Regions from separate parts of the Homo sapiens genome. Here region 2 is linked to region 1. Evidence: fine-mapped expression QTL. A gene starts in region 1. The other region holds a variant in brackets. All regions are shown on one strand. Distances are between the middles of the regions. Region 1 holds the start of STAM2 (signal transducing adaptor molecule 2). Region 2 has its middle 24 kb from the start of STAM2.

The links. PIP is the estimated chance that this variant, and not a neighbour inherited with it, causes the effect.
Region 2: its variant is fine-mapped to the expression of STAM2 in whole blood (TOPMed, PIP above 0.99).

Annotation. Positions count from the first base shown.
Region 1 is chr2:152,173,384-152,178,764 of GRCh38, forward strand. STAM2 (signal transducing adaptor molecule 2) reads right to left here and starts at 2,380. Exons shown (of 14, transcript NM_005843.6): 1 at 2,220-2,380. The coding sequence starts at 2,259. LOC105373689 (a long non-coding RNA gene) reads left to right here and starts at 2,150. Exons shown (of 3, transcript XR_923477.3): 1 at 2,150-3,174. RefSeq lists enhancers at 1,918-1,967, 2,018-2,157, 2,318-2,841, 2,318-2,737.
Region 2 is chr2:152,197,521-152,202,901 of GRCh38, forward strand. No RefSeq gene overlaps it. Among named protein-coding and RNA genes, the nearest start is that of STAM2, 24 kb to the left of the region's middle. The variant T/C (reference allele first, on the strand shown) is at 2,812.

The sequences.
Region 1 (5,381 bases):
ATATGTATACATATATATATATATTTTTTTTCGAGACGGAGTCTTGCTCTGTCGCCAGGCTGGAGGGCAGTGGCGAGATATTGGCTCACTGCAACCTCCGCCTCCCGGGTTCAAGTGATTCTCCTGCCTCAGCCTCCCCAGTAGCAGGGACTACAGGCACGCGCCACCATGCCTGGCTAATTTTTTGTATTTTGGTAGAAACGGGGTTTCACCATGTTGGTCAGGCTGGTCTCAAACTCCCGACCTCCAGTGATTTACCCGCCTCGGCCTCCCAAAGTGCTGGGATTACAGGCGTGAGCCGCTGCGCCTGACCCTTGCTTTGTATTAACGATTTGAAATGAAAAGTTTTAAGATATTAAAAACGTAATATATAATTTTTCTTCTATGATATACGTGCAAGTCCAATTTGAGCTCTTTAGTATTTCATTCTACTTTTTCTAATTCCATTCTCTTGTCCAGAAGTTACAGGAGGGCCTCAAATTCATTCTTTCACCCTTAAAATGCCTTTGGGGTTCTGAATTCAGTCATGCTTAAGCTAATATGTAACTACTTGAAGCTCTGGCTTATGGCACTGGCCATAAAATAATCTAGACACAGTTTTTTTGTTTGTTTGTTTTTTTAATCTCAACAGCAGTGCCTCCTTTACAACTGTAGGACTAAACTGTGATCCACTAAACCAATGCTGGGGCCTCGGGAGCCAGGCAGGGAAAGGTTTAGAACAGAACAGACAGAGCAACTCTGCCTACTTGTACCAGAGAATTTTTCCATCAGAAAACAATGAACTTTCAAGAAAAATTTATATTGAAGAAAAGAATTCACGGTTTTTAAGTTTTAAAATCATTTGTCTAATTCTATTTTGCGCCTTCTGTTTTATTTCATTAGAACAGAATCAAAGTGTTCATAATAGCAATTTTTTAAAAGTACAGGTTGCACAAAGGTTGTATGATTCAAACAAAAGAATACTGCAATGAGGCGTTCCAAAAGGAAACAGTGAGCCTTAAGAGTGATGTTTCCCAGATTTACGCCAGTCACCTGTATTCATCCACCAAAAAAAAAGTTTAATGAAGTAAGGAACATACATATTTGAACTATTTACATATATTATTTGACTCAAACATGTTTTTTAAAATGGCTTAGGGGATTACACAACGTATCAGAATAGGGCACTTTCTACAGTCTCCTAATAACCAAATGTTAACTATGAAACAGGGGAATTACTGCTGAGATGTGCAGTATTCTTCTGAGTCTCCCCGCCCCAACCCCATTTCCAAGTTCTAAAAATTTACCTAGGGTTCTGTTAACTACTGCTACAAAAACAAACAAAAAACAAACCTGTAGTCCCAGCTACTCGGGAAGGGGAAACGGAGGTGGAGGCTGAGGTGGGAGGAATTCTAGTCGCACCTGGGCAACATAGTGAGACCCAGACTTTCGAGAATACATACATATATTTCTCAGTTTGTTTTAGTGTTACTCAAATTTCCTAAATAATTTCGTATATATCTTATCCATGTTTTTCTCATTCTATAGTCACTGAGAGACCAGCGCTTTATGACTGCAACATGTAAAATACTTGTTGTTCTGGAGTGTTTTGAGACTGGAGATTTCCTTTTCATACTCTAAAACCGAACATCTCCTAGCACCCGCGCAATCTTTGCAATCCGGGGATGAAGAGCAACACCTTTACAATTGTAATAAATCTTAAAGCTACCCTATCAGGGATTGAATGCATGAGTAATATAAATAATGGGGAAGTAAGTTCTTCCTATTCAATGCGGTTGTCTAGGTGTCAAGTGTCTAGTGTTGGGCTTCTCTAGACAGCAGGGTCTCCACTGCTGCATCATCTTCAGAAAACGATGGGGCAAAGACGGAGGTAACCAGCTGTCGAACGAGCAGGAAGTTTTTAATCACCAACTCCACAACTACTTAATCAGTCCAGTCTCCAGCGAGCCCTAGGCTCTTCCCAAATCCTACGCTTGGCAAGGAGAACGGCCCTTTGAGGGTCCCCAAACTCAGGCGGCAGGAAGCACTCCCCAGACCGCTAGCGACGCGCCGAGGTTGCCCCAGAAAAATCCCAACGTCGAAGGAGCGGGCGGCACCGCCCCTCCCCTCCCTTCGCTTTGCTTCCTAGTCCCCGGAGTCGCTACCGCCCACTTTCTAGCCGGACAAACAGCAGTCCAGGGCCAGGCACACAGCAGTCCAGGACCGGGCACAGCACTCACCCACGTCTTGCTCGAAGGGGTTGGCGGTGAACAAAGGCATCTCGCCGGCGCCCGAGCCCTAGTCGCTGCTGTCTAGCTGACACTCAGCAACTGCTACCCGCCGGGTGACCCGCGGCCGCGGCTCCCTAGACCGCTCCGCTTCGGCCTCCGTCCCTGCACTTCCGCCACCGCACCTGCCCGGCTCTTGCCTGACAGGCCGGCTCGGAGTCCACCCTTCGATCCCGCGCTCCTGTCCCAACTTTTCTCCCGGGGCGAGATCCCTCCGACCATGGGCGTCCTCCCAAGGCCTTTGTCGCTGCCCCTGTCCCAGACTTTTGTAGGGGTCAGGCGGCCGCTACGGCCACCTTTCCAGCGCTAGGACCCCGGCTAGCCACGAAGCCGGGGACCTTCGGAGCCGGAAGTAGTCCCGCCTGGAACTGGACGACCCCGGAAGCTGCAGTGCCAGCGGCGGCGCGGCAGGGGGCGCGGTTACCCGTGGTTTTTCGCGTTGGACGACGGGCTCTGAGGGCCAAGTTCTTGTCACGAATTTAGTTTGTTTCAGAGCGGCAGGACTCGTAGCTAGAGAACGAGGACCCACGACGCGTACGCGTTACAGTCCTGTTTCCCTAGAAACGGAGCTGCCGGCGCGGAGGTGGCTTTGAGATTCTGCGAAAGACCTGACTGCTCTTCAACAATTATTGTGTTGCACCCTCCCAGGCGCCCAGTCCAAACCCCGTCAGAATAACCACCCGGGACAGCGGTGGTCGAAGTAACTACGCCTAACTTTTCGCTTTCCATCGTGTCCCCTCCATAAAAACACTGCTGGGCCCCCGGAATCCAAAGGCGAAGGAGGCACACTCCCTGCCTTAGACTTGTTGAGAGTTTTATAGGGGCAGTGCATAACGTACATGATGGTGTATGACGATTCGGATGGTAGTACGAGTCATAAACTCAAATTCCAACAGCATCCAGCCAGGTATTTAAATGAATGCAAAAGCCCAAGCACCCTTCCCACCCACATATTCTCTGTTCCTCTTAGAAAACTGTAGTAATGATTATGTTGCCTGTCTCTCCTCCTCATTAGATTATAAACTCCCTGATAAGTTTTGGTCACTACTATATCCCCAGCGTCTAAAACAGTGTCCCAAGTAATAGACGCTCAATGCTTTTCGAATGAAGCTGTAACTTTCTAACTGAACAGTGCGTATCTAAAGATGTCAACTACTGGTAAATTGCAGCCATTTATTGAAATGTGGGTCCTACTAGAGTTTGCAATTTTTCAATGATGTTTAAATGTTGAGAATTACTCCAACATTTTAAATAATAGATTAATCAAAACCATTTTACAAACTCTAGTATAAAGACCTGATGCTATAGAGAGCTCATACACATTCAGAAAGGTGGTTGCATTTTATAAAGTTCGGGGCACAAATGAGAAGGAATCGTGCAGAAGGGGCTGTTTTTCATAGAACGTTGAACCTAGGGATGTTCAAGATAAATTGGGAGGCCGGGCATGGTGGCTCACGCATGTAATCCCAGCACTTTGGGAGGCCAAGGCGGGCAGACTGCTTGAGGCCAGGAGTTCAAGACCAGACTGGCTAACATGGCGAAAAACCGTCTCTACTAAAAATACAAAAATTAGCCAGGCATGGTGGCGCAAGCCTGTAATGCCAACTTCTTGGGAGGCTGAGGCACGAGAATCACTTGAGCCCAGGAGGCAGAGGTTACAGTGAGCCAAGATCAGGCAACTGCACTCCAGCCTGGGCAACAGAGCAAGACTCTGTCTCGAAAAAAGAAAAAAAAAAAAGACTTAGAGATTTTTTGGACAGATAAAGACTTTTTGTCTAAGACTTAGTGTTGGAATGGAAAACAAGGCTGACTAGGTATAAGAGGAAACAGATTGACAAGAATTTTAAAGGGCAAGCTGGGAATTTTTTATTTTGATTAAGGCACTCAATAATTATTTAAGGATATTGGGTAGCAGAATAGTAAAAAAAAATTTTTTTTGAGATGGAGTCTCACTCTGTTACCCAGACTGGAGTGCAGTGGCGCGATTTGGGCTCACTGCAAGCTCCGCCTCCTGGGTTCACACCATTCTCCTGCCTCAGGAGAATGGCCAAAACTGGCCATAGACAAAATCTCTGCAGCACTGTGACATGTTCGTGATGGCCATAATGCCCACGCTGGAAGGTTGTGGGTTTACTGGAATGAGGGCAAGGAACCCCTGGCCCTTCCAGGGTGGAAAACCACTTAAAGGCCTTCTTATGCCACAAACAATAGCATGAGTGATCTGTGCCTTAAGGACATGCTCCTGCTGCAGTTAACTAGCCCAACCTATTCCTTTAATTCGGCGCATCCCTTCGTTTCCCTTAAGGGATACTTTTAGTTAATTTAATATCTGTAGAAACAATGCTAATGACTGGCTTGCTGTTAATAAATACGTGGGTAAATCTCTCTTCGGGGCTCTCAGCTCTGAAGGCTGTGAGACCCCTGATTTCCCACTTCACACCTCTATATTTCTATGTGTGTGTCTTTAATTCCTCTAGCGCCGCTAGGTTAGGCTCTCCCCGACCGAGCTGGTCTCGGCAGCCCTTGTTGAAGGAATACTTATGGCAATGGTGATCACCGCTATGGTAGCTACCATTAAATTACTCGTTGTGATTGGTTGTCCCGCTTTCCTCAGGTTTTCTTCTGCCATCTGTGACAGCTTCTTGGTCTGTCCCCAGGTGGGTGGCTGTGTTTGATGGGTATAGCTCACGACAGTTGGGGTCCTTCTCAGTGTCAGTCTCAACATGGCTGCAACCGGGGGGGGGGGTCCTTGGGATCCTCCCAGAATCTCTTCCTTGGCATCTGGCTAATGATAAGGTTTCAGGTGTCTTGATGGTATCCAAATCGGCTGTTGATTTTGGCCTGGAGAAATACAGCATAACCTCTACCCCAAGTTATTATTTTACCTATTTCCCAACTTTTTGTTACCGGATCTCTCCACCAAATCAGTTGTTCTGCTTCTGTCTTTGCATCTGGTTTCTGTAGATGCTGTTCAGCTGCTGATAACATCTGGCCTTCTTTGGGCAGGCTCAAAACATTTAAAGTTAATAATGCTAGATTCAATTGTGTATGGGCTGTCCCATAATCCCTATTTCTCCCCCTTTTTTGTTTTTGTCATTAGTTGTTTATCTGTAT
Region 2 (5,381 bases), 24 kb after region 1:
CTGACAAAGGGCTAATATCCAGAATCTACAAAGAACTTAAACAAATTTACAAGAAAAAAACAAACAACCCCATCAAAAAGTGGGCAAAGGATATGAACAGACACTTCTCAAAAGAAGACATTTATGTGGCCAACAAACATATGAATCATAAAAAAGCTCATCATCACTGGTCATTAGAGAAATGCAAACAAAACCACAATGAGACACCATCTCATGCCAGTTAGAATGTCCATCATTAAAAAGTCAGGAAACAACAGATGCTGGAGAGGATGTGGAGAAATAGGAATGCTTTTACACTGTTGGTGGGAGTGTAAATTAGTTCAACCATTGTGGAACACAGTGTGGCAATTCCTCAAGGATCTAGAACCACAAATACCATTTGACCCAGCAATTCCATTACTGGGTATATACCCAAAGGATTATAAATCATTCTATAAAGACACATGCACACATATGTTTATTGCAGCACTCTTCACAATAGCAAAGACTTGGAACCAATCCAAATGCCCATCAATCATAGACTGGATAAAGAAAATGTGGCACACATACACCATGAAATACTATGCAGCCATGAAAAAGGATGAGTTCATGTCCTTTGCAGGGACATGGATGAAGCTGGAGACCATCATTTTCAGCAAACTAACACAGGAACAGAAAACCAAACACTGCATGTTCTCACTCATAAGTGGGAGTTGAACAATGAGAACACATGGACACAGGGAGGGGAATATCACACACCGGGGCATGTTGTGAGGTGGGGGTCTAGGGAAGGGATAGCATTAGGAGAAATACCTAATGTAGATGACAGGTTGATGGGTGCAGCAAACCATCATGGGATGTGTATACTTATGTATCAAACCTGCACGTTCTGCGCATGTATCCCAGAACTTAAAGTATAATTTTAAAAAAAGTGAAAAAAAAATATATCTGGTATATTATGGGAAAGTAATTAAACCAACCTGAGAGGTGTATTAATCATGTCTTTCATTTTCTATATTTTGTGAGGCTTTGACATATTGGGGTTTTGTGGATTCAGGGAGGGACTGCCCCTCTCAGGGATAGCAAATTCCTAGAGATAGCAAACAACTTGGCTTTGAGAATGCCTTTGATATACAAACCAACCACACCCCCAGCTCCTCCTTCCATCAGACTCCTGCAGTGTCCTCCTGACCTCAGCCACCCTAGGGCCAGGTACTGGACAACTAGAGACCACCCCTATAGTCCAGAGCCCGCCCAAATTATTCAAGCTATCCAATCCTAAGCCTGCCTAGCTCCTTATCCTGCCTTGCGCATTCCTTCACATGAAAACCACAATAAAGGCTTTTGCCCATGCCTCCTCCTTGCATCTTCTGCTGCCTAACTGACCCTGGTGGCTTCCCCATGTGGCTCTGCATGGAATGGAGTGCCCCCTTCTCTTGAGAGCTGTGAATAACAAATTATCTTTTTCAGTGACAATTGTCTCCTGCCTGACCTGTTGACCTCACCATACCTGAATAAAAACAAAATCCCAGGTACATTTTAGAACGAGAAGTACAGAGAGTTCGTATAGAGCAGTGGTTCTTGAAATGCAGTCTGAGGAACCCTGGGATGCCTGAGACCCGTCAGGGAGTCTGTAAGATCAAAATCATGCACAAGTATCCTCACACAATGCAAAATAGCCAAACGGATTTTAATATAACAGAGCATGGAAAGACCATTGATACGGTTACAGATTCCTCATTGCAGCTAACCTTTGAGAAACTACCATTTTTTGAATATTAGTGTTGTATCGTAGAAAAATATCTATAGCTAACCATAAAGATTTAAACTACTTCTCTCCCTGTTCCAACTACTTATCTGTGAGAGGCCAGATTTTCTTCATATACTTGAACCAAAACAACATGTTTGTAACATATTGAATGCAGAAGCAGATATGAGAATGCAGCTGTATTTTATTAAGCCAAATATTAAAGAGATTTGCGAATGTGAAAGTGATGCTCTTTTCGTGAAATTTGTTGAATTTGGAAAACATCTTTATTTTTTAATAAAACCTATGGTGTTCATGATAATATGTAATATGTTTATTTTTGAATGAATCAATCTTTTCAACGTTTCTCAGTTTTAATTTCAAATATGGTACATATCAACAGATATGATCAATGTAAAAGAAAGCCCTTTGGGGGCCTCAATAATTCTTACAAACAAAGAGAAGTTCTGAGAGCAAAATTATGAGAGCAATTGATACAAAGGAATAACAACAGTCACAACTGGAAAGACTAGGAAGAGCCAAGCTGTGAAACCACTTGAATTGCAAGCTAACATAGGGATTTTTGTTTTAAATCATGGAAATAATGACTTTGAGCAGAGAGATAATATGATGAAAAAACTTTTTAGGACAAAAACTCTAGTATATATGTATATATGTGTGGAATCATTTGAAAAAGTATGTGTATGAGTCTGTTTACTATGTTTTGATGGAGGGAGACATGGTGAGAAACTGGAGAAGCCAGGCAGGAAACTGATGGAACTCTGTAGACACAAGGTAATTGAGGTCTTAATGAAAGGTATAGTGAGGGAATGAAAATATTAGCTAGTATTTGCTGAAATTTGTGAAGTGCTTACTATGTGTCAGGCACTTGGTGTGGATTATCTCATTATCTTCTCAACAATCTAATAATTAACTTTTACAAAGTGCATTTTAAAGATGAAGATAATAAAGCACAAAGATGCTAACGGAAGATAGCAAGTAAGGGATGAAACTAAGATTTGAAGCCGCACAGCCTGACTGCAGAGCCTGGACAGAAGAGTGTCCAGCATAGAGGATGAATCATT[T/C]CAGACACCGCTGATTTTTAAATGAATCAATCTTTTCAGTGTTTCTCAGTTTTAATTTCAATTATGGTAAATATCAACAGATGAAATCAACATAAAAGAAAGCTCTCTGGGGGCCTCAATAATTCTTAGAAACGAAGATAATTCCTGAGACTAAAATTATGAAAACAGCTGATAAAAAGGAATAAGAACAGTTAAAACTGGAAAGGCAATGAAGAACCTTTTCATTGAACTTTATGTGACAGTTCATTTCTTTATGTGACAGATGCCTTCAGTGTCCTCCCTGATCCCCTTACTGGGCAGTGCACCCAACCCCAGCCACTGTGAGTACTGGCTGCTCCTGACTCACAGCTGCACCCTTTGAGGGAGTGAGGGGCGTTACCCTTGGCTGACAGGATATGATTAGAAAGCCTGGAAGGCGGCTGGTGGTGGCCCATGGCCAATGAGTCACTGTGCGAGTGTATACTAGCCCAGCCCTCTTGCCTCCAGGCAGGAAAACCTCTGTGTGAAGTGCTCTACTTGCTCCATGCTCTGGCGCTCTCTGTACCTACGCAGGCTGAAGCTGAGCCTAGACATCTCCTGAAACCACACCTTTGACTCGCTTCTTCCCCTTCCCTCACTCCCTTACAATGTCTCAGGAAAGCACTCTCTCAGTAAATCACTTGCACATGAATTCCTGTCTAAGCTCCGCTTCTAGGAACCCAACTAAGACACTGAAAATTCTGTTTTAAAATATCTTTCGGAATTCCTTTTTTTGGTCTCAGCTTTTATAGCTATCTCTGAGATGGATCTATAATGTGGTCACTCATTAACATTTTTGGAATCTGGATCTCTTGAGAAACTCATTAGATATGAGGTGGGGGTTTTAAATTCATTCCAAGTCATAACTGCAGTTAGAACCTTGAGTACTTTATTTTTTTTCTTAATCAAGCCATTCTGGGCACTCTACTCTTCCCTTAGCAGAACAGAATCACTTTGAGTACAGAAACCTCCATATTAGTCATCTTTTTATTTCCTCAGCACCTAGCATAATGTTCTGAACTTTGGAGGCATATAGTAAATGTATTAAATAAAAAGAAAAACACCTTCAGAACTTACTAAATCATTTTACCGTGATTTTTTAAAAAGACATTTTTTAGACTAGTTCTAGGTTCATGGCAAAATTGAACAGAAGGTCAGAGATTTCCCATATACCTCCTGCCATCACACACACAAACTCCCAACTATCAAAATATCCCACCAGAGTGATACATTTTTTACAACTGATGAACTTACATGAACACATCATTATCATCCAAAGTCCATAGTTGACATTACAGTGCACTCTTGGTGTTGCACACTCTGTGGGTTTGGACAAACGTATAATGGCATGGATCCACCATGTAGTGTACTCTGTGTAATATCATATAAAATGTTTTCGTGGCTGTAAAAATCTTCTGTATTCCACCTATTCATCCCTTCCTCCACCAACCCCTGACAACCACTGATCTTTTTTTTGAGACGGAATCTCACTCTGTCGCCCAGGCTGGAGTGCAGTGGCGTGATCTCGGCTCACTGCAAGCTCCGCCTCCCGGGTTCATGCCATTCTCCTGTCTCAGCCTCCCAAGTAGCTGGAACTACAGGCGCCTGCCACCATGCCCAGCTATTTTTTTGTATTTTTAGTAGAGACGGAGTTTCACCATGTTAGCCAGGATGGTTCGATCTCCTGACCTCATGATCTGCCCGCCTCAGCCTCCCAAAGTGCTGGGATTACAGGCGTGAACCACCACACCCAGCCAACAACCACTGATCTTTTGCTGCCTCTACAGTTTAGCCTTTTCCAGAATATCATATAATTGGAATCATGCAGTATGTACAGCCTTCTGAGATTGGCTGTGTCTTTTTCATGGCTTGACATTTCTTTCTTGTATGATCTCGATACTGAAGAAATCTTTCTGAGAATCTAATATAATTATTTTCCTTCATGTGAGTGAGACTCACCTAGAAGAATGTGACAAAACTCAAGTAGAAAGGTCCCATCCCTTCTACCCCTCCTATTCGGGGTCTTGATATTGCAGGGCTGAGGTAAGGTTAGGAATGTGCATTTTTAGCAACACCACAGGAGATTTTAATGCATTAAAATAATTGGGCCACATTTTGAGAAACAGTTGTTAGATATGAGTTCTAAATTTCTTTTCAAAGAGTTAATATGTCAGTATGTTCAATTCTTTGCCTTCTACTTTTAAACTTAACTTCCTCATAAAGCAACCTTTTTCGATCACCTGCTCCACCCTAACTCATTCCGATCACCTGCTCCACCCTAATTCATTCCGATCACCTGCTCCACCCTAATTCATTCCGATCACCTGCTCCACCCTAACTCATTCTGATTACCTGCTACCTGCTCTGCCTTGACTCCCGCCAAAGCACTCACCCTGTCATTCTCTTTAAATTAGCCAATCGGAATTAGTTTACCCTGTGCAGTCTAACCCTAGCCAATAGGGGAACGACACAGAAGCAGGGGCCACGTGCGTCAGGGATAAGAACCCCTTCCCCTCCCTTGTCCAAATGTGTGTTCACCATTGCTCCATCTG